7 linked regions of the Homo sapiens genome follow. The protein of the gene in region 1 purifies or fractionates together with the protein of each later gene. This does not show direct contact. Each region holds a gene or a part of one and is shown in the gene's direction. Other genes may lie near its edges.

Region 1 (3,500 bases):
TGGTGACCAGCACCTGTAATCCGCTACTCTGGAGGCTGAAGCAGGAGAATTGCTTGAACCCAGGAGGTGAAGACTGCAGTGAGTCAGGATTGTGCGAGTCAGGATTGCGCCACTGCACTCCACCCTGGGCAACAAGAGCAAAGCTCTGTCTCAAAAAAAAAAAAACAAAACATATATATATATATATACACACACACATATATATACGTATATATACATGTGTATATACGTATATACGTATATACACACACACACACATATATAAAGCAAATTGTGACCGTTGTGTAGTGAGAGAATGATTTTTTTTTTATTCCTTTCAGTCTTTTTCATGTGTCATTTGTGTATGAGAACTGTTGAAGCTTAGAGATGAATGACTTAGAAATTTTGTCTTGGATCTCAAAGGGTAGTAACATCTCAGAGGGTCAGTTCTACCCAGTGTTTGGACCTCAGTTTTCCAGAACCAGGCTCTCGATTTTTTTTTTTAAAGAAGCTTTATTAAGTTATGTTTTATATACCATAAAATTCACTCCATTCAATTAGATTTTTTTGGTTACATTTTGAACATTTCTGTCATCCCCCAAAGATCCCTGTGCCCATCCAGGCCTGCCTTTTGCATAACTCTAAGCGTGCACAGTCCCATTCCTGTTTGCAGTGTTCTCTCCTGGACCAGCTTTGAAGAATGCCATCCGGGACTTTGAGTACCCCTGCTCCACACTGTCAAAATCCTTTCAGAGAACTCTGCTCCCAGAAAACAAAAGCCAAGGAAACAGATTTGTTTTAGGCCCAGTGATAGAACTCTTCTCAAAGGAAAGGTGACATTTAGGTCTAGTTTATTCTCAGAACAGGGAAAAAAAAAAATCCTAGCAAGGAGCACAGCATGCATCAGTAGCTCAATGATTTATTCTGCCTCAGTAGGATGGGGTGGACTTACTGGGCAACCACTGACTTCATTTAATGGTAACCTGCAGGTGAGTGCATCAGATCTCTTCCTTGATCAAAGCTTTTAGCTTGTCTCATTGCCAACCAGATTTCTAAGAAACTTGTTACACAAATCAGAAAGGCAGGCTGTTACATCATTTGCTTACAGTTTGGAAGATTATTCTTTTAATAAATAGTTGAATGCCTGCTATGTGCCATGTACTCTTCTAGGTGTTAGTGACATTGTGCTGAACAGGACATGGAGCTTATACATGTTCTCCTGAGTGTATGCTCAAGTCACCTCATTGATTTGGCTGCTCTATTTAATCTTTATAGGGAGTTCTCTGTTTTTCTTCCTAATATTCCAAGATAACTTTTTTCTTGAATTTATGAAGTCCTGTTCATATATAACCCTACCTTATGATCATAGCATTTAAATAATTTTCTCCTCCCCCAAGTAGTAGTGTTTCTGGTTGCTACTTTTTAATGGCTGCATAGTTCAAGCAAGTGTACCGTAATTTTACTTAGCAAGTATTTGTTAAACATTTAGGTTGCTTCTAGTTACCTTTTAAATTGTCGCTATTATTGTGCTGTGGTGACCATATTCATGCATATGGCTTTTCTCGTATTTTGGTATATAACCTGATAATTTGTCAGTTTAAATATTAGAGATTCAAACATGTTTTTTAAATTATTAATCTACCTAATTACTTCCAAGAGATTAACAGTTGCTATCATGGAAGTGGTGAGAATATTTGGAGTTTTGGATTTGACTTTATTTTACAGATAACCAGACTTGTAGCTAGAGGTGACACTAAGCACCTGACTCCTCATCTAATGTTTTGTTTTCGTCTTTTATATTAGGCTGTGATTTTAGTGCTTTTGACCGACCAGTTGGTATGCTGAAGAATGCTTTGTGGGCCTTCGTGAACACCTTATTTTGTAGAAGTACGTTATGTCATACTGGCTTAGAAGTCATGTACCTGTATCCTCTCTCTCACTTTTACTGGAGAAAAAAAAAAAAGGAAATGAACGAAGAAGGATGCTGTTGTCAGAAGCAATTTTAAATGTTTTGGGACAGTGTCTTGTCCTAAGTGCTAATTTTAGTGCGATAATTACTAATAATACCTGCAAGTCTCCAAGAAAAGTTAAATTGTTGGTTATGTTACCAAAACACAGAATGGCCAGATTAAACAAAGGATGTCCTAAAATAGTAGTGTTGATGCTTAAAAGGTTAAACTGTTTTCTGTAAACTTTAGTTTTGTGAAATAGGGTTTTCTTAGTTATGCTTAATGAATTAGTCATATGATTATATGGAAATAGACATTAAACATGATAAGTTTTGGGAGTTGCAGACTTAATGTGGTCTCAGGATGTTTCCTTGGCAGGACTTTTTAAATACAGGTTGCATTCTGGGAGAAAGCCAGAGTTAGCAAATCTGTAATGCTGAAAAGTTGCCAGCCTAGAGAAAAATTATATCAGTTTTCAGGAAACAAGTTTATTTTTAAGTACTAAAAATGGTTTTAAATAGGCCTGGTGGAATAGTTGATACTTACTAATCAAACTAGATTATAAAAAAGAATGTTACTTTAAAGTAGAAGGTGGTTTTGTGGGTTGAGTATGAACCTTAGAATTCGATAGACTTGAGTTCAGATTATGGTTTTGATATTTCTGAGGTATGTGACTTTAAGCAAGTCTGTTAAACCTGATGTTCAGTGTATAAAGATGGGAGAGCCCAGTTCAGTTTCTGGCATGAAGCTAGCTGTTACCAGATTGAGGCTTTAAAACCTGCTATACTGCTTAAATAAAAATGTGTTAATTTTTATATCTTTTGTAATCAAATCAGTGTAGCCAAAATTCTGGAGAAGAAACTTTTTCACTGTGGTACAATAATTTTTATTCAAGTTATATACATACACATTGTGTTTTCTGTAACAAATTACTACAAATTTATTTGTTTAAAACACAAATATTTCCTTACAATTTCCATGAATCAGGAGTCCTGGTATGGGGTTAGCTGCTGGGCCCCCAGGGTCTTACCTTGCAGGAGCTGTGATTTCTTTCTTTTCTTTTTTTTTTTGAGACAGTCTTGCTCTGTCGCCAGGCTGGAGTGCAGTGGCACGATCTTGGCTCACTGCAACCTCCACCTCCCGGATTCAAGTGATTCTCCTGCCTCAGCCTCCCAAGTAGCTGGGACTACAGGTGTGCGCCACCACGCCCAGCTAATTTTTGTATTTTTAGTAGAGATGGGGTTTCATCATGTTGGCCAGGTTGGTCTCTATCTCTTGACCTTGTGATCTGCCCGCCTCGGCCTCCCAAAGTGCTGGGATTACAGGCGTGAGCCACTGTACCCGGCCCAGAGCTGTGATTTCATCCGTGTCTCCTTCCAAGTTCACTGGTAGAATGTGGTTCTTGTGATTATAGGACTGAGGTCCCCCATTTCTTGCTGGTCGTCAACTGGTGACTGCTTTCAGCTCCTAGAAGCTGCCCTCAAGCCCCTGCCACATGGTACCTTTCGCATGCCTTCTCACAACATCTTAGTCTGAAGAATTGGCAAGAGAATCTCTTGGGAAGGACTCAGT
Region 2 (3,500 bases), on another chromosome or scaffold:
TTAAAATAAAACTCTCCTACTTTACTAAGTTTTCTTTACTTTAACAGTACAATTGTCCCACTGAGCATGCAGACCTGCAGGGAAGAACTGCACTTCACGATGCCGGTGAGCAGTGGTTTCCCTTGGATACAAATATTTGTTAAAATGTCTAGTCATTTGAATTAATTTCAGGGTTTTAACACATAGATATTTATATAATTCATGGAGAAACAAAGAATATTAAAAACCTGTTTGCACAAATTAGAGATTTATTAGATTATACCGCTTAAAAAGATTCATTCAGTCAGTATTTACAGGCCAGTCAGCTTGCTAGATACTAAAGGTACAAAGGTAGATAAACTATAATCCTGCTCACAAGGAGCTCCAAGCTGTGTGTGTGTGTGTGTGAGAGAGAGAGAGAGAGGGAAACAGAGAGAGAATGTGTGTGCGTGTGTGTGTTTCATGTCTTTGGGAATTGGAGAAATGGGAAGAAGACTTTCCTTAAACTATGTTTACCTAATTAACATGTCTGAACCTCTTTTTTCTCATTTGCAAAATGAAGTTAATAATACTACTGCAATAAGTAGTATTAATAAGTATAATCAAATCATAAGTAGTGCCTGGCACATAATAATTTCTTAATTAATGGTGGTAGTTGTTTTCCTTTAGAGATGTCAGTGCTGAATTTCATATCACTGTAATGTGCTATATTTTAAAAGAGATTTATACTGATTTTTAGAGATTTTATTATACTTGTGTGTCTAAATTTATTTGCATTATTCTTTAGGTGTCTTAAAGAAAGTACTTTGAAAAAAGTTATATATTTAGGTATTTTTGGAATGTAAGATAGCCTGACCTCTTGCTAAGTCTGATATTCCTACATTTAACTATAAGGCCAAAGGAAAAAAAACAGTCTACTTTCTCTTTTCATGTATATGGAATATATGCAGTAGATTAAGGTGGTCTGCACTGAAGACATATTATACTTCAAATTTCCTTCAAAATTTTATACCTTAATTTTTAAAAATTTTGCTTTTTGTATTTTATTTGTATGATAATTTCTCACACAATGCATTTCTTTTTTTTAATATAGAAGGGTATTACTGTATTTGCAAAGCATTTTTCCATTATCATTTGAGCCTCACAATGACCCCTGTAAGTTAACCATATATTTTATTATCCCTGCTTTAAAAACTGGTACAACTTGACCAATTGAAATCTTTATACTTATTAGTTAGATGCATTAGCTAGGATGGAAACTAAGTTGCTATAACAAAAGAACTCCAATATCAGCTGCTTATTAAAAAAATTGTTGAGTGATATATATTGACAGGTCACTCATGGTCATTTTAAAACTGAATTCTTTCTATCTTGTTTCTCCACTTACCTGTGAGTATCTTCCTTAACTGCAAGGTTGAAGCAGAGTTGTGGTCGTAGCCGTATTCTAGCTAGCAGGAAGGAGGAGAGAGCCTAGTGGAATACATGCCCAAAGTCTGGAACTCAGACTTGGAAGTAGTAGATTATTCTCCATTCATATTCTACTGATAGGAGCAAAATCAATTGGCTATATTTATCTGCAAGGGAGGCTCAGAAATAAACTCTCTAGGTGACTAGTCATATTCCGAAACCTACTCTATAGTAGAAGAAGAGGAGAACAAATTTTGGTAAAATACTGCATTTTCTGCTACAGTTCAACTCTCTGGCCTTCCAAATATCTCCAAAGCCCCTACTTCCCACATACTCCCAAAGGAGAGGATATATAAACAAACTCATTTACTTCATCTAGCTCAAAGTCTAGGATTTCTGGGTGGTTTGCAGTTTTCTCTTTTTGGCTTTAAGCGGTTCTTCATGATCTAGTAATCTGTAAACTCTGGAATTTATTATGCTTTACATTTTTAAATTCTCATTTATAATTGGACGTAAAGGGTCGCTAATTTTACAGTTCCTGAATTAATGTTTTCAGGTTCAGTTTATCTTTTTCTTAAAGCTGATGATACATTTTATATAAAAGATTTGCTGGATTAGAGACGAAAAGTGAAAATTTACTTGATTTTCTTATGTTTGGTTTAATTCTATTATTTCACCAATAAAAAAAAGAATGCTCACTTTGTCAGTACTTTTTGTGCTTATAATGTATGTCAACTCATAAGGCTTAAAAAATTCATGGGGATTGTAAACATAATCCTACTTTATGAATTTAACAATAATTTTTCCTAATATAAATATGAACTATAGTGTTAGTCAAAGAAGCATAATGTGATTTTATAATTATTAGCAAAATGACCTTACTTTGCATAAAGGTAGACATTGCAATCTCTGCTTTTATGAGAAATATGAATTGTATGATTCATACTTTACTTACTGTGACTATTCTATAAAAAATGGATATGATTCTTTAAAAAAACTGAGCCAACACTTCAAGGATCAAGTCAGTTATAGCCATGTTTAAAAATATACTGTAAGTACAAAATTTAGCTTTGATTTTTATTGTCTGTGCTTATCCTTAGAATAGTAGTGTGTTCTTGTCTTCTACAAGGTTGACGTTATTCCTTGGTCCTAATAAATTGTAGACAATTTATAATCTTGTCTAATCCATTTTCAGATGAAAAATTGTGCTTATAATGCTAAACTAAGAGTGAAGGACGTGAAGCTTGGTAATTTAGAAATTGAAAAACTTATTCCTTATATGGACCTAGAAAAACACTATGTGTCTTACCAACAGATGTTCACCATTTATCATTTTCTTTTGTTCCTTAAAGCAATGGCAGATTGTCCTTCTAGCATACAGCTGCTTTGTGACCATGGGGCCTCTGTGAATGCCAAAGATGTAGTAAGTTAGTTTATGTTTATTCTCATTTCAACTCATGCATTCTAACTTCTACATTTTGGGAGATCTGTTGTCTTAATGCTGTTTTATTTTTCCTGTTGCTTAGGACGGGCGGACACCACTTGTTCTGGCTACTCAGATGAGTAGGCCAACAATATGTCAACTGCTGATAGATAGAGGAGCGGATGTTAATTCCAGAGACAAACAAAACAGGTAATTCTTTTATCATGGCTCCCAGATACCAGCTGGATACACAGGGATGGAAAGGCCAAGTCAAAGCAGCAGCTCTGTTCTCTGACTTGGCCTTTCTTTCCTGTGGGTTCTCCCCTTCCCTGGCTTGCTTTTCCTTGGAATTAACATCTACTTGTCAGTTTTCTTCAGAGTCTGCTGAAGAAAGAAGGAGAGGGAAATAGAGGAAGATGACAGGGTTAATGTGAATAAAAGCAGTGATTAGGCCTTATGTTTGGATCAAAGAACTGAAGGAGAGAGGAATTACATCCCAGGTGTTTTAAGCTTAAAAAACTCTTTAATGAAATGGGTGCAAGTAAGATACATAGGAGAAGAATTTAAAAAGTACATCTGTAGTTACTTCTTCATTAGTGAATCTTTTGAGTAAAGTGGTTCTTGAGTGTTCTGGAACTTGACATGTGTCAGTATAGATTTTCTCAAGGTGTTTTCTCTCCTTACTCTGCCA
Region 3 (4,099 bases), on another chromosome or scaffold:
GTATTTCAGTTACCCCGAAATACAGCTGCTACTAGAAAGGCGGAATACCTGTTTGTTTTCTTAAATTATCACTTTGCAGAGTAAAGTTGGTGTAATAGTCACCACCAATAGTGTGGCAAATGAAGTTATAGTTTTTTTTTTAATTTGGATTACTCTTTGGGGGGAATGGCTTTTTTATGTTTAAAGTTTCCAATCATTTTTCAGTTTGCAGTCATTGTTATTTTTGATTCTCAAATTGTTCTAATTTTGGCCAGTGGGCAACTTCAGGCTGGTTCCCATGTCCTTTTAGAAGGACCTCGTTCGTCTTGAGAGGCGTCCTGAGCTTCTGACACAAGATGTTCCAAGTTGTCCTCATTCACTCCTAGCTCCTGACCTGGCATCAGTCATTTCTCGAAGGATCACTTGGTACCTTTTAGTGGGGGGTGGTATTTAGAGATTAATAGCTGGGTGTCAAGGATAGACAATGTTCCTATGCCCTTATGTTCATTCAAAAGTTAACAATATAGGTTTTAAAAAATACACCCAGGATGTGTGTGTGTGTGGGAGGGGGTAACCAAAACACAATATAGGGGTTTCTACTGTGACCCTAACTTATATTATGATCCCGATTTTTAAAAAGAGGAAACGGAGACCAGAGGTGCCCAAAGTTACTTGGCTAGTAAATGGCAGCGTCGGGATTTAAGCCCAGGCATGTAACTTCCATGTAACAGGGAAGGGAGTCCCAAGCATTCAGAGGGGCCGCTCCAGCAGGCGACGGGTCCGTGGAAAGGGGTCAGATTGATGACCAGTGCTGGGGGTGCCGGAACCAGCAGAAAGGGTGAACGGACCCGTCCTGCCCGACTCCTCTAGGCCAGGAAGGCAGGACCCGGCGAGCTGCCGGATGAGGGAGCCGTTGATGGAGTCGCCTGGGCCGCTGTTTCGCCTCAGATCTGACCAGAACTTCCTAAGGCACAGAAAGTACCAAAGAACCACACACAAGCACCCCAGAGCGAAGAAACCAGTCACGCGCCACGACCTTCAGCCAGTGTCCATGGGACCCGACCCGCCTGTGAGGAGTGCCTGTCCACCCCTCAATCAGAGGAAGCCTTGAGCAAGGAGGGGCGGGACATCAGTAGGTCGTGTCCAATGAGGAGCCAGCGCCGGATTGCTTCAGGACAGACTATTTCTGAGTCTCGGCGGAAGGCGGAGGGAAGGCCGTGGGGATGGCCAATCAAAGGGGGCGACTCAGGTCGGTGGGGACCGGCAGCCAATCAGGAGAGCGCTCGCTCCTGACTCGACCGGCCCACGCTTCCCGCCAGTCCCCTAACCCTGAGGCTGCCGCGCGGCGGTCACTGCGCCGGGGTAGTGGGCCCCAGTGTTGCGCTCTCTGGCCGTTCCTTACACTCTGCTTCAGGCTCCAGTGCAGGGGCGTAGTGGGATATGGCCAACTCGGGCTGCAAGGACGTCACGGGTCCAGATGAGGAGAGTTTTCTGTACTTTGCCTACGGCAGCAACCTGCTGACAGAGAGGATCCACCTCCGAAACCCCTCGGCGGCGTTCTTCTGTGTGGCCCGCCTGCAGGTGAGTGCCCCCTCCCGCGCTACCCACGCCGGGGCCGGGATGCCCAGAAGGCGCTTCCTCGGGGGCACACGTGGCCGATCGGGCCAGGAATGCAGTTCTTCTTGATGAGGGTACTAGGACGCGGCTTCCGCCTCCTGGGCGGGTCCACCTCCTCCGCTGCGCCCACTGCCCGGCCCTGCCCGGGCCACGGTGCCCTCTCGGGCTGCCTGGAGCTTTCCCCCTCCTGGCCTTTGCACCGGCTGCTCGGTCTGCACCGATTTGGCCTCTCGTCCACTAACTTAACAGATTGCATACAGTTGGTACTTCTGGAGAGTCTTCTCTGACCCGTGTCTGGGAATTGGTTGCCTTCTGTTCTGTACATAACCTTTGTTACAGCACTTCTCACCTGGCATTGTGAAAATCCGTTTACCTGCCTTTCGCTCCTCATCTAAGAGGTCCTGAAAGCTGGGACCATGTCTTATTTGTAATAATGCTGTGTTCAGTTAGGTCAAGGGGCTGCATGAACTATAACCAGTGTTGGTAAATCATTGCTCTTCAGCCCAGTCCATTCATTCATTTAGTACATATTCTTCCGGCACTTAACACTAAGGGTATAAACATGATTGAGTAAAGTGGCTGTTTCGAGGAACTCTCAGTCTGTAGGACAGAGGTGCAATAGATTATGTTCAAAACCTTTTTGACAGCGTCGAATGAGACAAACATGATCTCTGCTAACATCGTGAGTTCTTAGTTGCAAGCAACAGAAACTGGCTGATTTAAGCAAAAAAAAAAAAAAAAAAAAAAAAAAGAATGTGTTGAAAGGCTATTGGAGAGCTCACAGAATGACCAGGAAGGCAGGAGTACAAAGCTGACAAAACGGACAAGCATAAAGGGAGGCACAGCAACTGTAATACAGTGGGCATCACACAACAGAACCAGCCCACGGAGCCTCTTCCACGCCACTGCTGAACTTGGTAAACGTGGATGCTGTATTGTCCACCACCCCCTGCCCTGGACACTGCCTGCCTCTGTACATCCCTGCAGTTCCTGAAACCCAAATGTGTCAGCCTCTCTGGAGTCCCTGCTGTCTTGGGCACTAGCTTCTAATTGAAAGCCCCAGAATGTCCCGATTGGCTAAGTTTTGGCCACGTACCCATGCCGTGATTTTAAGCAAAACTGAGAGAACCAGCTTCTGGCCTTTGAAGCCTCAAAAATGGGAGTCAGGCTCTGATACTCCCTATTCCCAAACTCGTAAGGTAGGGAATTTCCCAACTGTAGGAAGGGAGTCCAAATGCTTACAGTCAGGGCAAGGGGAAGAGATATTAAACAAGGGATTATTCAGTTACAGGTATATGGTCCATCTTAAAAAGGAGGCATGCAAAGTGCAATGGGGCGTATGACCAGGGTACCTGACCTAACCAGGATGCTCAGGAAAGCCCTGCCTGAAAATGTGACTTTTAAGTTGAGACCTGAATGATTGTAGAGGTGGGGAGCACACAAAACAGGGAACAGCATCTTCTGCAAAGGACCTGAAGAAAGAGGAAGCTGGATCTTTCAGTCAGTGTGGCTGGAGTTTAGTAAGGGGAATGTGGCATGAAGACTGGAGATATGTGGAAGGGCCACATCTTCCAGGACCACAGAAGCCAAATAAGACACACTGCAGAACTAAAGCACATGAAAGATAGATTTCTATCTCCAAAAGCCCATTCTGGTCACATGGAAAATAGATTTGAAGGAGGGAAGAGTGAATGTGGAGAGTTCAAGAAGTTTTTGCAGCAATTTATGCCAAAGATAATGAATGGCATCTTGAACTAGGGTGGTGGCAGGGCAGGGTGGATGGATTTGAGAACTAATTTGGAGATAACATTGTTAAAGCATAGTGATTGAGTGTGAAGAGAATACCAAAGATGACTCAGGTTTTTGGCACCAGGTAGATGCAGGTGATGTTTGCAGAGAAAAGAGGAAAATCCGGCTTGGGAGGAGAAAATTTTAAGTTCAGTTTGAACATTTTGAATTTGAAATGCTTGCTAAACAGTCAAGTGAACAGAATAATATTAGCAAACATTTATTAAGTACTTACTGTGTGCTAGGCCCTGTTCTAAGCACTTCTGAAGCTCAGAAGAGAGATCTGGTCTGGGTTTAAAGATGATCAGAATATTTGAAGCCATTGGAGGGGATGAGAATGTCTTGAGCAAATTGCCAAATGAATAGAGAAAATGGCCTAGACCATGGGTGTCCAACCTTTTGGCTTCCTTGGGCCACACTGGAAGAAGAAAAATTGTCTTGGGCCACACATAAAATACACTAAAACTAATGATAGCTGATGAGCTAAAACAAAAACAAAAACAAAAAAAAGGCCCATGCATAATTTTTGTGATGTCCGCCACCACAGGTAAGCAAAAAAGTTCTTGCATCCAAAGGGTTGGACACCCATGGCCTAGACTGAGCCTTGAGCAACTCCAACATTTAAAAATCAGGTAATGGAGGAGGAGTTGGCAAAGGGGATTGAGATCAAGGAACAGCCTGAAAATCAGGAAAGAGGCAGATCAGGAGAAGGTGG
Region 4 (3,500 bases), on another chromosome or scaffold:
GTTTCAAGGCTACATTAAGCTGTGACTGCACCACTGCCCTCCAGCCTGGATGACGGAGCAAGATCCTATCTCTAAATAATGAATAAATAAAAATAAAAATAACATGAGAAATTACCATAGGGTAAAATAATTAAGCAAGGGCCAAGCTTAGAAAAAACTGCCCTGGTTCTACAGCTGCTGGCAAAAGTGGTGTTGGGTGCCATGGAGGTCAGGGAGGGTCTTCAAGAAAGGGCTTTGTGGAGGCCATCTGTGCAGCAGAGCCCACCCATGCAGCAGAGCCCACCCATGCAGCAGAGCCCACCCGTGCAGCAGAGCCCACCCGTGCAGCAGAGCCCACGTGTGCAGAGAGCTCACACATGAGAGCCCCCTGGGGCAGAGTCCATGAGTGCCTCTTCCCAGTTCCGCTGCCAAGGGGGCCCCTCTCCATCTGCCTGCCACGGACATCACCCTGTTCCCACCACTGGTGAATGGCTCCAGGATTCTCCGTTAGCCCCACCAATGTGTCTTTTAGGTTTTATTACTGTTTTCTGAGGAAGAATTTGGCAGGTTGTCATTCAAGTTGCTTAAGAAGTACGTGGAGTTAGCTGGCATATAATGGGTATGCTTTCAAGTTGGAAGCTAAGTCATATGTTTCTGTTTCAGGACGTTTTTACTGTAAGTGTTGGAAACTTACCCCCTAAGGCTAAGGTTCTTATAAAAATTACCTACATCACAGAACTCAGCATCCTGGGCACTGTTGGTGTCTTTTTCATGCCCGCCACCGTAGCACCCTGGCAACAGGACAAGGCTTTGAATGAAAACCTTCAGGTTTGTACGCATAAGATTTGAAGAAGCATTTTGGCAGCAGTGGAGGGGGAGTGGTGGAGGGCTGTGGAGGAATTTATGCCTGGGGAGAAAAACATGTAAAATAATCTTTTAGGCATAAAGTTAATTTTACTGACATGCATTTAGATACATTATGTGTATAAAATGAAAAGAATAAAAGTTACAGATATGATCAATAAGCATATTTTTATTCTGCTTAATCACTCAAAAAATGTTATATCTGTAGTGCAAGTTCATCATGAAGAACTAGATAAGCATAGAGAATACAAATAAGCCAAAATAAGAAAATTAAAACCATCCTTTATCCCATTGCCCAGAGTTAATGGTTAATACTTCGGTATATCCCTCCAAACTTCCTACTTTGTATGTACAGCACATGTATAAAATGTGTGTGTGTGTGTGTGTGCGTGTGTGTGTGTGTATACACACAGACATATGTAGAGTTTAAAATCTCTGTCAAAATGGTGAGTTGTATTTTAGAAGTTCCTGTCATTCCATGAGCAAACTTTCTGTGTTTCACTGCTTGAAAGTGAAACCAGCTGTCTTGCTGACAGTTGTGGCCTTGCCAAGATTACATTCACTTTAGTCTCATTGTGAAACTTAATATATGCTTAGTTATACAAATGTATTTTTCTTTTAACAGGATACAGTAGAGAAGATTTGTATAAAAGAAATAGGAACAAAGCAAAGGTTAGTACCTAAAATATAAAACCTGTCAATTCAATGGATATTGGTTTTCTGGTTTAAATTTCCATTTAGAATTGTTTGAAATAATTTCAGATAGAAATTTAAGATCGTAGACTAAGACAACTTTCTCTTCATTTTTGCTAGCTTCTCTTTGACTATGTCTATTGAGATGCCGTATGTGATTGAATTCATTTTCAGTGATACACATGAACTGAAACAAAAGGTTAGTGCATCTTTGATTTCTTAAGAGCTGTTATTTTAACACTACTTTTATCTTATCAAAGCAATGTATGCACGTGGTTGAAAAGTGAAATAATGCTGACAAAACTTCTAACAAGAAGCACTACTCCTGCCCCTGATTCTCCCCAGACCAGTTTCCAGAGACAGTGAATCATTTGGACTATTTGAGCTGTTTCTTTGATTTTGCCTCCAATTTTTAAATATTAATTTTTAATGCTTTTTCTTGATTTCGCCTGTTTCAGAAATTATCTTTTGACTTCCTGTTTTGGAAGTTGGACGTGTAGCTCTTGCCCCCTCCACCCACCTAACTCACTACTTTTCCTCTCCCCTTCATTCCAAAAGACCTGTTTCACAATAGTCAGTGATTATCATGTAAATGATGTTTACCACTGAGCCAAGAAATGTATAATATTATGATGAGTTTTTTTTGTTTGTTTTGTTTTATTTTTTGAGACAGGGTCTTGCTCTGTCACCCAGACTAGAGTACAGTGGTGCAGTCATGGCTCACTTCATCCTTGACCTCCTTGGATCAAACAACCCTCCTGCTTCAGGCTCCTGAGTAGCTAGGGCTACAGGCCTGTGCCAGCACACCTGGCTAATTAAAAAAAAAAAAAACTTGGCTGAGTGCGGTGGCTCATGCCTGTAATCCCAGCACTTTGGGAGGCTGAGGTGGGTGGATCACGAGGTCAGGAGATCGAGACCATCCTGGCTAACATGGTGAAACCTCGTCTCCACTAAAAATACAAAAAATTAGCCGGGTGTGGTGGTGGGCACCTGTGGTCCCAGCTACTCGGGAGGCTGAGGCAGGAGAATGGCGTGAACCCAGGAGGCGGAGCTTGCAGTGAGCTGAGATTGCGCCACTGCACTCCAGCCTGGGCGTCAGAGCGAGACTCCATCTCAAAAAAAAAAAAAAAAAATTGTAGAGACAGGGTCTCACCATGTTGCCCAGGCTTTTCTCAAACTCTTGGGTTCAAGGGATCCTTTTTGCTCTGGCTTCCCGAAGTGCTAGAATGACAGGTGTGAGCTACCACACCCAGCCTATTTTCCTTTTTAGAATTCTGCAGGAACTTCAGACCTTCTCTTTATCTCTGGTATTCTGAAATTTCATAACAGTATGATTTTCATTCATTGTATGTAACTGGTGGTCTTTAGTTCTGAGAAATTTTATTGTATTAAAAAAAAGTTCCTCTCTTGTGCCTTTCTGCAGTGCCTTTCTTTTTTTCTTTTTTCTTTTTTTTTTTTTTTTTTTTTTTTTTGAGACAGAGTCTTACTCTGTTTCCCAGGTTGGAGTGCAGTGGTGGGATCATGGCCCACTGCAAACTCCACCTCCTGGGTTCAAACGATTCTCATGCCTCAGCCTCCTGAGTAGCTGGAACTACAGGTGCCTGCCACCACGCCCAGCTAAATTTTCTATTTTTAGTAGAGACGGGGTTTCCCATGTTGGCCAGGCTGGTCTCAAACTCCTGACCTCAGGTGATCTGCCTGCCTTGGCCTCCCAAAGTGTTGGGATTACAGGCGTGAGCCACTACATAGTGGTGGAGGAGTCCTCAGTAGCAACAAGAGAGTGCCAGGCCCGTTGCATGGACACTTTTCACGCCCCTGCTTGTATCTCATCTGCCAACATATCATTGGCCACAGCAAGTCCTTTGGCCAACTCCAGTTTCAAGGGTGGAAATATAGCTGCTGCCTCGTGGCAGGAGGAACTTCAAAAGTCACATTGCAAAGGGGCACGCAGACAGGAGTGGAGA
Region 5 (3,500 bases), on another chromosome or scaffold:
CATGTTGTCCTATTTTTTCTCAGATTATTAGTGATATTAAACATTTATGTAACAAATGACCCATTGGGTTTCCTCCAGTGAGGAAGGATGAAGCTGAGAAAAGGAGGGTTCTATTTCCTCTTAAGCCACAAAAGGTTCAATGAAGTCACAATTGGCCCTTGCGAAGAAGCCTTGAAACCTTGGTGTTTCTTAAGCCATTTGTAAAGCACAAATCCTTAAAACTTCTCCTAGGCTTAGAGAAAGAGGAATGGTGTCCTGGATTGGACCCCAGGGAGTATGCCGATTTATTCAATCTGTGTTGGTTCTTGTCTTTCGGTGCATTGCTCTAGCTCTCTTTCTCTCTGGATGCCGAGAGTGCTTTGGGTAGTGAGGGACTGCTGTTGAGACTAAACACTCCTTCACCTTCCCTCTTCCTGTTAAGACTGGTTCTCAACATACCAGCATTTGAGTTATAGAAACACACTAGCTTTGTGAATGCTAGTTAAGAAAAGCAAAGTGACATCAACATATTTGCCCAATCCTTTTAGTTTGGAAGAAATACACCTTGCAGGTGAACTCGTTCTTCTAGTTAGCATCTGCTGATTGAGTTGTTTATGTTGTTCCTGTTCCCCAGAGTTCCTGACAGAATGTTCCCAAATACTTGTTGAATGAATGAATGTTTTGTGTCCAATAAAAAGGTTGGCCTATTTAATTGATGTTTCCAGATCTCCTTAAGCCTGTTAACTATCAAAAATGTGTTAGAGCCTGAGGAAATGAGGAATTATGCATACCTGTACTTAACTCTTTAGTTTCAGAAGGTATTAAATAATTATTGGTTGTATATCTTTGAAAACATGTTTGATGTAGTCAAAGCTCTTAATAGGGATAATAGCTGTCATATATGCACAACTTTGAAACAGAGGTTTAACACATTCAATCTGTGGCTTTGCTTAAAGAGATGGACAATAGCAAGTTCTACTCTGGTGAATTACAGCACAGTCCCATGAACAGCCTTTCCAAAGATTATGAAATACCCCAGTAGTATGCTCAAAGACTGGTTCTCATTACTGGGTACAGAATGCTCAGTTTGGTGCTTGAGTGCATTTTTATGTTGGTATACAGCACCTGACCCTCTGTCTGTCTTCAAGCATAATGGGGATTGTCATGTAGGAGAGATTAGGAAATTTTTGTATGGATTCAGAGGGCAGAACTGGTAATAACTGGTCACAGTGAGACTTTTGACTCAGTATTCTGAAGATCTTTCTATGAATATAGCAGTGCCCTACACTACATGAGCTGACTTGAATAGCGAGTTACCTGCTAGTGAAGTGTTTTTTTTTTAAGAGAAGCTGAAAAAATGACAATAAAAGCAGCTAGTATTCTTGAATTTCTACCACATGCATGACATGTGGCAAGTGCATTATACCCACATATCTTATAATGGACTATTCTTACTGAGGATGTTCTTTTCCAATGAGGGAAAAGAGGGGTGAGAGGTAAAATAATTTACTCAAGGAAACACTAGAAGTAGTAAATGCTGGCTGAGGATCCGAATGCCCACAGCCTGCCATCTTAGTCATTATACTCTGCTGCCTGGGAGTGGCGCTGGCCAGGTAGTTCATCATTGTTAAGGAATTAAGAATCAGAAAAGAATGGGCTCTCCGTCCTTGTTCCACCTAAAGCTGTAAGATTAGCTATTTTTTGTACATGACAAATCCTATACAACTTCCGCTCACCAGCACAAGTTATTTCTTGTGATGTTAGTGCCGTATTAGTACATGATCATCAAATATATGTAAGTTACAGAATTGCCAACAGATATATTTTTTTCTTTTTTAGAGACAGGGTCTTGCTCTGTTGCCCAGGCTGGAGTGCAGTGGTATGATCATAGCTCACTGCAGCCTTGAACTCCCGTGCTCAAGCTGTCTTCCTGCCTCAGCCTCTGGAACAGCTGGGAGACTATAGGCACACACCACCACACCCAGATAATTTAAAAATTTTGTTGTAGGGACAAGGTCTCGCTTTGTTTCCTAAGCTGGCCTTGAACTCCTGGCTTCAAGCGATCCTCCCACCTTGGCCTCCCAACCTGTTGGGATTACAGGTGTGAGCCACCATGCCCAGCCAGATGGACACTGTTGAGCAATTGCCGACTTTAGGTTTATATATTTGAATGTATGTTAGTGATTGTTAATGTTCAATAAACCATTTAAAGTGTTAAAAAAGGAAACATTTTAATATAACATTGAGTTATACTTTGAGCTAGAATAGGAAATAGATATCTAAGTAGTTTCTTCTATAATTTATAAAAGTATCATCTTCTCTCATGTGACCTACATTTCTGTAGTTCGTGCATACCAGAAATTGTACAGATGGTTATTGTATAGTGCTTCAAAAATACATGTCATGTTTTTGATTAGGATACTTTTTAGTTAGTGTTTTAGGCTTGTTAGTACCAAAGCTGGGACCCTGATAAAATTTTTTTGCCTCCTTGACTAGATTGAAATTTGATCTAGATGTGTGAACAGGGAAAGAAATATCTGAGTTATTTTGTTATACCACCATTTCATAACATTCAAAGGAAGGGAGGTCATTGCCAGTCTCATTATAAACTTTCATTCTGGCTTGACCCAGAAGTTTGAGGCTGCGGTGAGCTATGATTGTACCACTGCACTCTAGCCTGTATGACAGAGCGAGACCCTATCTCAAAAATAAATAAATAAATAAAATTAAATAAATAAAGGAAGTTCATTGTGGAATTAGTTTTTCTCATGAGATTTAATGTTTTAATGTTTTTCATTTTACATGAAGAAGGGGACAATAAGCAAACGTATTGCCTCTGGACCAGTATCAAATGCATTTGGAATTTACCCTGTGTTATGAAGAAAATATTGTCAGTCTATCAAAAGCATCAGATAGAGTTGGTGATGACTTCCTTCTCAAACCCTTCATTGCCCTCTAGGTTTTTCTTCCATTTCACTTGGTGTTTCTAATTTTTCTGTGCTCAGTCCTCCTAATTATTGTTCATCAGTGAATGTTAGAACATCCAAGGACTCATCTTCCATGTCTTCTTTTCTTTGCCTACAGTATCTTTCTAGCAGATGTTATCAAGTTCATATATCTTCTCCACGCTGATTGCTTCCATATTTACATTCCTGACCCTGACCTTGTCCCTAAATTTTAGTAACTACTTGAGATTTCCCACTGTAGGTCTGATAAGCATGTCACGCTCAGTGGGTTCTAAGCAAAACTCTTAGTACTACCCCTTTCCCACCCCTTCCTAATCATCTCCTCATCTCTCCAATGTTTCTATCTTAGCAAATGGCATCATTGTTCAGCCAGTTGCTCAGGCTTCCAAATTTGAAGTCATTATTGACTCTTGTTCTTTTTTAACATCATACCACACATCCAATCTGTGAAGAAATCCAACAGGCTATATCTTCAAATGGATCCAGAATCTGACCACCTCTTGCCACATCCACCATCACCTTTCACCTATGCTGTTGCAGTAGCCTGGACTCCTT
Region 6 (2,663 bases), on another chromosome or scaffold:
TCTCAGCTCTTCCACCGTCCTGCCCCACGAAGGATCCAAGGCCAGTTAACCAGGCAAGACACAAGCCTTGGCTGGAAAACTGTGGTAGAGCCGGGCTGTGGCTCAGGTAATTTTTGCCATTTGGCCAGAGGGAATCAGAGACTACAAGCTGGACAGTCACCCAGGCCCAACCTTCCCCAATGCACGAGTCCTCTCTCTCTCCTTGTCCCTGTCCACCAAGTAGTTGGACCATTCTGGCCCCCAAACAAGGGAAGATAAAGTCCCCAGCACACAGCAGGAGTCAAAAATTCTTCTCGGCTCCTTGGTGGGTTGTTTCTGGATCCTAGGGCAGCCTCTGTCTGTGTGGTTAATGTTCTGGTTTCTCAGTCTCCTCACTATATCCACTTCACTCCTCATTTGCCCAATGGGCTCAAGTACCCCATAAGATTTACCAGCCATCAGCTCTATCTAGGGGGCTTTCATTTCTTTCCCCTTGGAGTTCTTTTCTTCAGACTTAAAGCAGAAAGGGGTCTGTGCTGCCTCTAAAGGATTATGAGACTACCCTTTAGGTTGAAGTTTGACCTGGCTCCTGGCTTACCAGTCTCCTGGAAGCAGAGCATGCAGATACTCATGCGGATACCCATTGGAATGACATCATCCCTCCCCAACCCCAGCTCTCTCTGCTCACCTTCCAAAGGCACCTGGAGGTGCAAGCCTCATGCATCTCCTTTCCTGAGCACCAGTAATGCTGCTGGCATCGCCTGCTTTCTCTCCAGTGGCTGGAGACTTCAAGCTGACTTCATTGTTTCCACCTTGGGAAAATCCCTAGGCTAAGCTGGGCCTGACCCAGCATCCTCTGCCTTCTAGGAAGTGCCCAGCAAGAGGGAAAGCAGACCCCTTTAGTCACTCCACAAGCAATAGCTCCATGAGAGGCATGGACTGTGAGACTACTCCCTCCTGTTCCTCCTTCTCCATCCCCCATGGAGGAGGCATCGCACTTTACCAAGCTGATGCATTCCTACAGAAGTGGGCCCCGGATTTCTGCAAGTCGACTATCATGATGACTTCGCTGGAGGAAAGGTGATACGTACATACGCATTGAGGGCCTCAGCTTTATATAGTTCAAAATGCAGCAAACTTTTCAGAAAGCCACGTAAATAAATTGGTTAGGTTCCTTATACCAGTCACATGGGGAAGTTGAAAAGAATTGTATATTCTTGGCAGTGCTTTTTCTTTAGCATTCTGTCAATTCAAAGAAGGGATCCTCTTTCAAAGGCTACCTTTATGAAGTAGACACTATTGCCCTCAGAATGAGAGAACATTAAACTACCAGTCTGGTAAGCTGGATTTTTTTCCCCATGGCTTTACTTCCTTGCTGTGTGACCTTGGGTGAGTCATTGTCTTCTTGGAGCCTCAGTTTCCCTGTCTGTAAAATGAGTTCTTTGAAATGGATGATCTCTAAGGGCACCAAATCTGGTATTCTAAGGTTCTCCTGTTTTCACCATCTATAATAGTATGGGATGATTTTTGCTTGTGGAAGGTATCATCCGTGTGGGTTCTTCCCTCCTGCCCTCAATTGTTTTTCTGGGCCTTGTTTTTTAGTTTCTGTATGTTTTAATCTCATGGGGATGAGCTCAGAGAAGCTCCGTGGGCCTGTTTCCCAATCTGCAAAGTGTGAAGGGATTAGATGGGATGGTCTCTGAGGCTCTTTGTGGCATCAGCCTTGCCCAGTGCCACACAGTATCTCCTGGCGTTCTAGGAGTCTAGGTATTATGGAAAGTACCCAAGTCTGTGTATCTCCTGTTCCTGTGCATCTCCTATGAATTTCCTGGCAAGAGGAAGACTCAAGACTTCCTCCAGAGGAATTTGTCTTCTCTGCCTTCACTCAGCATGGGAACCAGTGTTCATCCTGACCTTGTCTGTATCAGATTTGGCAGTGAGGAGGCTTGGGGAGCACCTACCTTACTTTCAGGGACAGGAATCTATTGCTCATACTTCTGCTTCCCAGAGTTTTGCCAATCTAAAGGCATTGTCATGTGGCCTGCCTTTCCTGTCCACATCCCCACCTCTGATGCTCAAGATGCTATTTCCAAGATCTCTTACTGCTGCTTCTCCTGGCTTACTGGCCAGAAACTAGCTCACTCAAGGCTGCCATCCTTCACTTGCAGCCTCCCTGCCATTCTCCTTCACTGGTTGGCAACCTTGAGAGTTCAAAGAAAATCAACCTCTGTGGTGGTCAACTAAAGGTATTAGGAAACTAAGTCTGTGGCTCTTCTCTGCTGATGGAAACAGAAGGGCGCCAAGCCATGCCTAAAAAGATCTCGCCAATAATTCTTGTCTTTGAGTGTTGGAGCCCTGGATTCTGGTGCTATAGCTCCTGGTGCCAAAGTCTGGATCTTTCCACATTTCAGCAGCACCAACATCTGCTGCTACTCAAAATGTCCTGTTGAAGAGGGACAGCTGTGATGCCCTTTTGCTGGGGCTGCCATCTTGAAATCTGAGTGCAATAGGATTTGCTTGTAACAGTTATTTCAGGATATTTTGTTTCTTTAATCTGCACACTTTCTAGATAGATTTTATTTTTAAGTGTCCTCAGCATTGCAGAAAATAACATTGTAATAGCAAGTAAAGGCTGGAGGCTGTTTCTCTGGGCTTCAAATGGCTGGCAAGGCTGGCTCTCAAAT
Region 7 (4,193 bases), on another chromosome or scaffold:
CTTCACTAAGATCACTGAGAAGGAGTGACAGTCTTTAGCCTCACTGGAAGTCCTTGTGCTTTAACTGAAATGGCCAAGCAGGAAGGACATTCCGTCCCCACCCTTGTCTCCCCCAAGGGCTTAGGTCTGAGGTAACGAACCTGGCCAGCTTATTGGGAGGGGCTAGAGGTGGGCTAAGGGCAGACGGAAGCCAGGCCTGAGAACAGGGTGTGGCAAGCATGGCTGGCCCTACCGGGAAGTGAGGCCAACACTCAGGCTTTGTCCGGTATTCGGTTCCAGCACTAGGATTACCCCTCTTGACTGGGTTTGAAACTGCTGGGAATTGTTTGGTGGTGGCTTCACGGGAGAAAGATGATGAAAGCTGAGGGCCTTTAAACAGGAAAATGGTGGAGGGAGCGGGAGGAGAGTTGAGTGCTAACAGAAGCACACGCACTCAGGCAGGCATGAAAATGTGTGCCATTGTGTAGCCACAGCTGCCCCCTCGCCCAGGATGCACGCACAGACCCCCATCTGTGTAAGCAGGCTCAGACATGCGGGTGCATATGCCTGGGGGTGTGAGCACAGCAGAGCCCAGAGGCCTGCAGGCGTGTGCACACATCCACAAAGTGTCCACACATCCACAAAGTGTCACAAATACACACAAGTGTCCCCTTCCTGTACAGGGACGCATAAAATAAATGGGCAGGAATATGAGTGGAGGGTCCGGGAGGTGAGGGTCCAGGGTAAGCATTCCCAAGGTCCCTGGGATTCCGATGCCTACTGGAGTGGGGAGGGGAGGAGCCAGAGGTGCGGTCGGTCGTGTGTCTCTCTCAGCCTAGTTTCTATGGGAAATGAAGTAGGAAGGAACGCAGCCAGGGAAACTAGCTGGGCCAGGAGGGGTCAGACCCCTGAACAAGTGAGCTGATCTCTCAAGGAGGAGCTGGATCGGTGTGAGGGAGAGCGGTAAGGAATGCCTTTCTGGCTTCAGCAGCCTGGAGGATGGGGACGTCTGGGCGTTGACTCCTGGGTTGGAACTTTTCAGCCCACCCCTTCCCCCAGTCTCTTGCCACTGGGTCTCTCTGCTTGGGCCTCAGGGATCTCTAGGTTCTTCACTCCCTCTCCAAGCATCCTCCTCCGGGAAGCCTTCCCTCACTGAGTCCGTTTCCAATGGGCTGGAACTGCGGTCCCCCGCTGTTCTCTGCGGCCGTCTAGGGATGGCGCTCCTGCCTACTCCGGACCATCCCTGCTTGGACTGAAAGCCTGGGCTTCGGCGGGGCGGGCGGGCAGAGGGCGGAGGGCGGCCCCAGGAGGGGCCTGGCAGCAGAGAAAGGTGGCCCGCGGCAGCCCCGCCCCTACCTGTGGAAGCCCAGCCGCCCGCTCCCGCGGATAAAAGGCGCGGAGTGTCCCCGAGGTCAGCGAGTGCGCGCTCCTCCTCGCCCGCCGCTAGGTCCATCCCGGCCCAGCCACCATGTCCATCCACTTCAGCTCCCCGGTATTCACCTCGCGCTCAGCCGCCTTCTCGGGCCGCGGCGCCCAGGTGCGCCTGAGCTCCGCTCGCCCCGGCGGCCTTGGCAGCAGCAGCCTCTACGGCCTCGGCGCCTCACGGCCGCGCGTGGCCGTGCGCTCTGCCTATGGGGGCCCGGTGGGCGCCGGCATCCGCGAGGTCACCATTAACCAGAGCCTGCTGGCCCCGCTGCGGCTGGACGCCGACCCCTCCCTCCAGCGGGTGCGCCAGGAGGAGAGCGAGCAGATCAAGACCCTCAACAACAAGTTTGCCTCCTTCATCGACAAGGTGAGCGGGACTGGACCTCGCCTCTCCTCGAGCCGCGCTCCAGACCACACCAGCCGCCCTAACTAGCCCTGCCTGCGCGCGGGCCAGGCGCTGGGGAGCACTGCCGCCCTTCTGTCTTTCCGCCAGTGTTGGGGACACGATCTGGGGGTCCTTCCTCCTTCGCATGAACCCCGTGGCTATTTTATCCCCTCGGTTTCCAAGCCCTCCCTTCCAGCAAGCTGCCCAGCTGCCCCTCCCTTTCCTCCCGGAGTGCGGGCCTGAGTCCTGTAGGGCTGCCCTCGCTGGCTGCCTGTTGGTCACCTGGACCAGTTTTGCCTCGGACTAGGAGTTCCAGAGGCCTAGGCCAGGAGTTCTCTCTCTGGGACCCTTTCCCTGAGAGAGGACCGTGTGGAGTCAGGAATGGAGTTGGATGGCACGCCCTTCCCAGAGGGGGAGACCCAGGCTCTCTCAGATGCTGATGCGGATGCAGATGCTGGAGATTAGAGCGGCAGTCGGTGGGGCGGGGGAGGGGGGGGGGCTCCCGCCCCTCCCCTCCCCCACCTGCCTGGTCCTCCAGCCTCCCTTAGGTGGCAGGAGGAGAGGTTATACCTGCCCTTGAAGACAGCCCAGTTGGGGGCAGGGAGTGGCAGAGAGGGCCCTCAAAAAGGGGTCCATTTTGGAGATATTTTTCCTGGCTGTTGGCCTCCGCCACACATGGGGCCGCTGGAGGGGGCGAGGGCAGACTTGACTGGTGGGTTTGGGAGGAGTGCTGCCAAAGCCAGGAACTCAGGGCTGGCCCTGCTGGGCTGTTCTGGCCAGGGCCCCCTTCCTCAGCTTAGACGAAGTGTACTCCCACACCCGCCTCCCTCACGTTCTCCTTTCCTTCGCCATTCACCCAGACCGGTCTTTTAGATTTCATAGGGGCCTCCCCAAGCTGCTCCAGGCCCAGGTTCCCCCATGTGTTGAGCTGCACCGTCTTACTCTCTGTGGTCCCCAGGGCCTGGGGCCCTGAGCTGCTGGTTTTGCAGAGGCCTCTATTGCCTCCCACCTCCAGTCATACCGGCTACTCCTTAAGGGCCTTTGTGGGCTCCAGGCTGGGGTCATTTTACCATGGATTGACTGTCCTGAGGCCTTGCTGGAGAAAGGGGAAGGAGAGAAAGGATATTGAGGAAGGAAGAGAAGAGGTCCCAGACAGAAGGGAGGGCTGGGCCTGGTCATCCTCATGATCCATTGACAGGAAGAGGTGGCTGTTCAGATAGGGAGGTGGAGAACACCACCTGTAATGTGATGGGGAGTGAAGTGGAGAGGAGGCCCTGGAGCACATTCGTCGAGAGTCAACCACGGGGCACTTCCGTGCACCAGGCAGACCTGCTTCCTGGATCACTCTGTAGGACACTTGATTTGGAGTCCAAAGGGAGAGGGCTGGAAGCCCCAGGCAGGGAAACAGCCAGGGGGAGCATGGCTCTGCTAAGTGGCTAAAGATGATGTTCCTCAATCCCGCTGTGGGTGGCACGCTCTGGCTCCTCTTGAGTTTCCTCCTTCTCGCCCGTTCTAGGTGCGGTTTCTGGAGCAGCAGAACAAGCTGCTGGAGACCAAGTGGACGCTGCTGCAGGAGCAGAAGTCGGCCAAGAGCAGCCGCCTCCCAGACATCTTTGAGGCCCAGATTGCTGGCCTTCGGGGTCAGCTTGAGGCACTGCAGGTGGATGGGGGCCGCCTGGAGGCGGAGCTGCGGAGCATGCAGGATGTGGTGGAGGACTTCAAGAATAAGTAATGCCCCCTGTGCCACATGCGAAGACCCCTGCCCCGGGCCAATGTGACCCTCATGAGCTGACCCTGTGCAAGTCCCCCTGCTTCAGGAATCAGCATGCAGCTGCTCAGTCCAATAACTCCCTGAGGGGCCAGTCTTGACCAACACATTTCCTGCCTTTCCTCTCTCCTCTTTGTCCCTGGGGGCTGTTTCCAAATCATTCTGGTCTTTTCCCCTGACTCAGTCCCAGTGAAATGTCTCAGCCCAGCCCTGACCTGCACTGTCTCCTTTGGGTGTCTGACCAAGGCCCCGAGAGAGAGTAGGGCAGAAAGTGTCTTCTGACAGGGGTGCTTCAGAACTGGTATGACCTTCACAGATTATTCTAGAGCAACTCTCTTTTGTTCAGGTGAGGAATTAGAGACCAGAGAAGTTTAGGGACTTGGTTGAGCTCACACTGCAAAGGTCACTGGGAGAGCTGGGACTTGAATTTTAGGTCCCTGACTCCTAGGAGAGGACACAGAGCCAACTTGGGAAGCAAAGAAGCAGAGAGGGAAAATGGTCATTGTGAGCCATGCGAGGGCCGCAGAGGCTGAGGGTGGGTCTGGTCATGGCAGGAGCCAGAAGGAGGCTCAGGAAGGCTGGGACTGGGGCTTTTGAGGACAGGTCTTTTTGCACTCTTTTCTCATTGAATAGAAA

The links.
Region 2: the proteins of RNF38 (region 1) and UACA purify together in Homo sapiens (affinity purification with mass spectrometry, with the first as the bait; one study listed by BioGRID). This does not show direct contact.
Region 3: the proteins of RNF38 (region 1) and GGCT purify together in Homo sapiens (affinity purification with mass spectrometry, with the first as the bait; one study listed by BioGRID). This does not show direct contact.
Region 4: the proteins of RNF38 (region 1) and PARP4 purify together in Homo sapiens (affinity purification with mass spectrometry, with the first as the bait; one study listed by BioGRID). This does not show direct contact.
Region 5: the proteins of RNF38 (region 1) and LMO7 purify together in Homo sapiens (affinity purification with mass spectrometry, with the first as the bait; one study listed by BioGRID). This does not show direct contact.
Region 6: the proteins of RNF38 (region 1) and LUZP1 purify together in Homo sapiens (affinity purification with mass spectrometry, with the first as the bait; one study listed by BioGRID). This does not show direct contact.
Region 7: the proteins of RNF38 (region 1) and KRT7 purify together in Homo sapiens (affinity purification with mass spectrometry, with the first as the bait; one study listed by BioGRID). This does not show direct contact.

Annotation. Positions count from the first base shown.
Region 1 is NC_000009.12:36,393,770-36,397,269, reverse strand, and holds part of RNF38 (E3 ubiquitin-protein ligase RNF38), read left to right. Parts: intron 1-1,782; exon of another isoform or gene 1,783-1,866; intron 1,867-3,500. UniProt on the Homo sapiens protein: Acts as an E3 ubiquitin-protein ligase able to ubiquitinate p53/TP53 which promotes its relocalization to discrete foci associated with PML nuclear bodies. Exhibits preference for UBE2D2 as a E2 enzyme.
Region 2 is NC_000015.10:70,687,059-70,690,558, reverse strand, and holds part of UACA (uveal autoantigen with coiled-coil domains and ankyrin repeats), read left to right. Parts: intron 1-47; coding exon 48-105; intron 106-2,738; coding exon 2,739-2,809; intron 2,810-2,912; coding exon 2,913-3,019; intron 3,020-3,500. UniProt on the Homo sapiens protein: Regulates APAF1 expression and plays an important role in the regulation of stress-induced apoptosis. Promotes apoptosis by regulating three pathways, apoptosome up-regulation, LGALS3/galectin-3 down-regulation and NF-kappa-B inactivation.
Region 3 is NC_000007.14:30,502,030-30,506,128, reverse strand, and holds the start of GGCT (gamma-glutamylcyclotransferase), read left to right. Parts: upstream 1-1,299; 5' UTR 1,300-1,419; coding exon 1,420-1,560; intron 1,561-4,099. UniProt on the Homo sapiens protein: Catalyzes the formation of 5-oxoproline from gamma-glutamyl dipeptides and may play a significant role in glutathione homeostasis. Induces release of cytochrome c from mitochondria with resultant induction of apoptosis.
Region 4 is NC_000013.11:24,457,279-24,460,778, reverse strand, and holds part of PARP4 (protein mono-ADP-ribosyltransferase PARP4), read left to right. Parts: intron 1-642; coding exon 643-807; intron 808-1,468; coding exon 1,469-1,515; intron 1,516-1,656; coding exon 1,657-1,735; intron 1,736-3,500. UniProt on the Homo sapiens protein: Mono-ADP-ribosyltransferase that mediates mono-ADP-ribosylation of target proteins.
Region 5 is NC_000013.11:75,642,830-75,646,329, forward strand, and holds part of LMO7 (LIM domain only protein 7), read left to right. Parts: intron 1-3,500.
Region 6 is NC_000001.11:23,086,194-23,088,856, reverse strand, and holds part of LUZP1 (leucine zipper protein 1), read left to right. Parts: 3' UTR 1-2,663.
Region 7 is NC_000012.12:52,231,850-52,236,042, forward strand, and holds the start of KRT7 (keratin, type II cytoskeletal 7), read left to right. Parts: upstream 1-1,393; 5' UTR 1,394-1,447; coding exon 1,448-1,771; intron 1,772-3,305; coding exon 3,306-3,517; intron 3,518-4,193.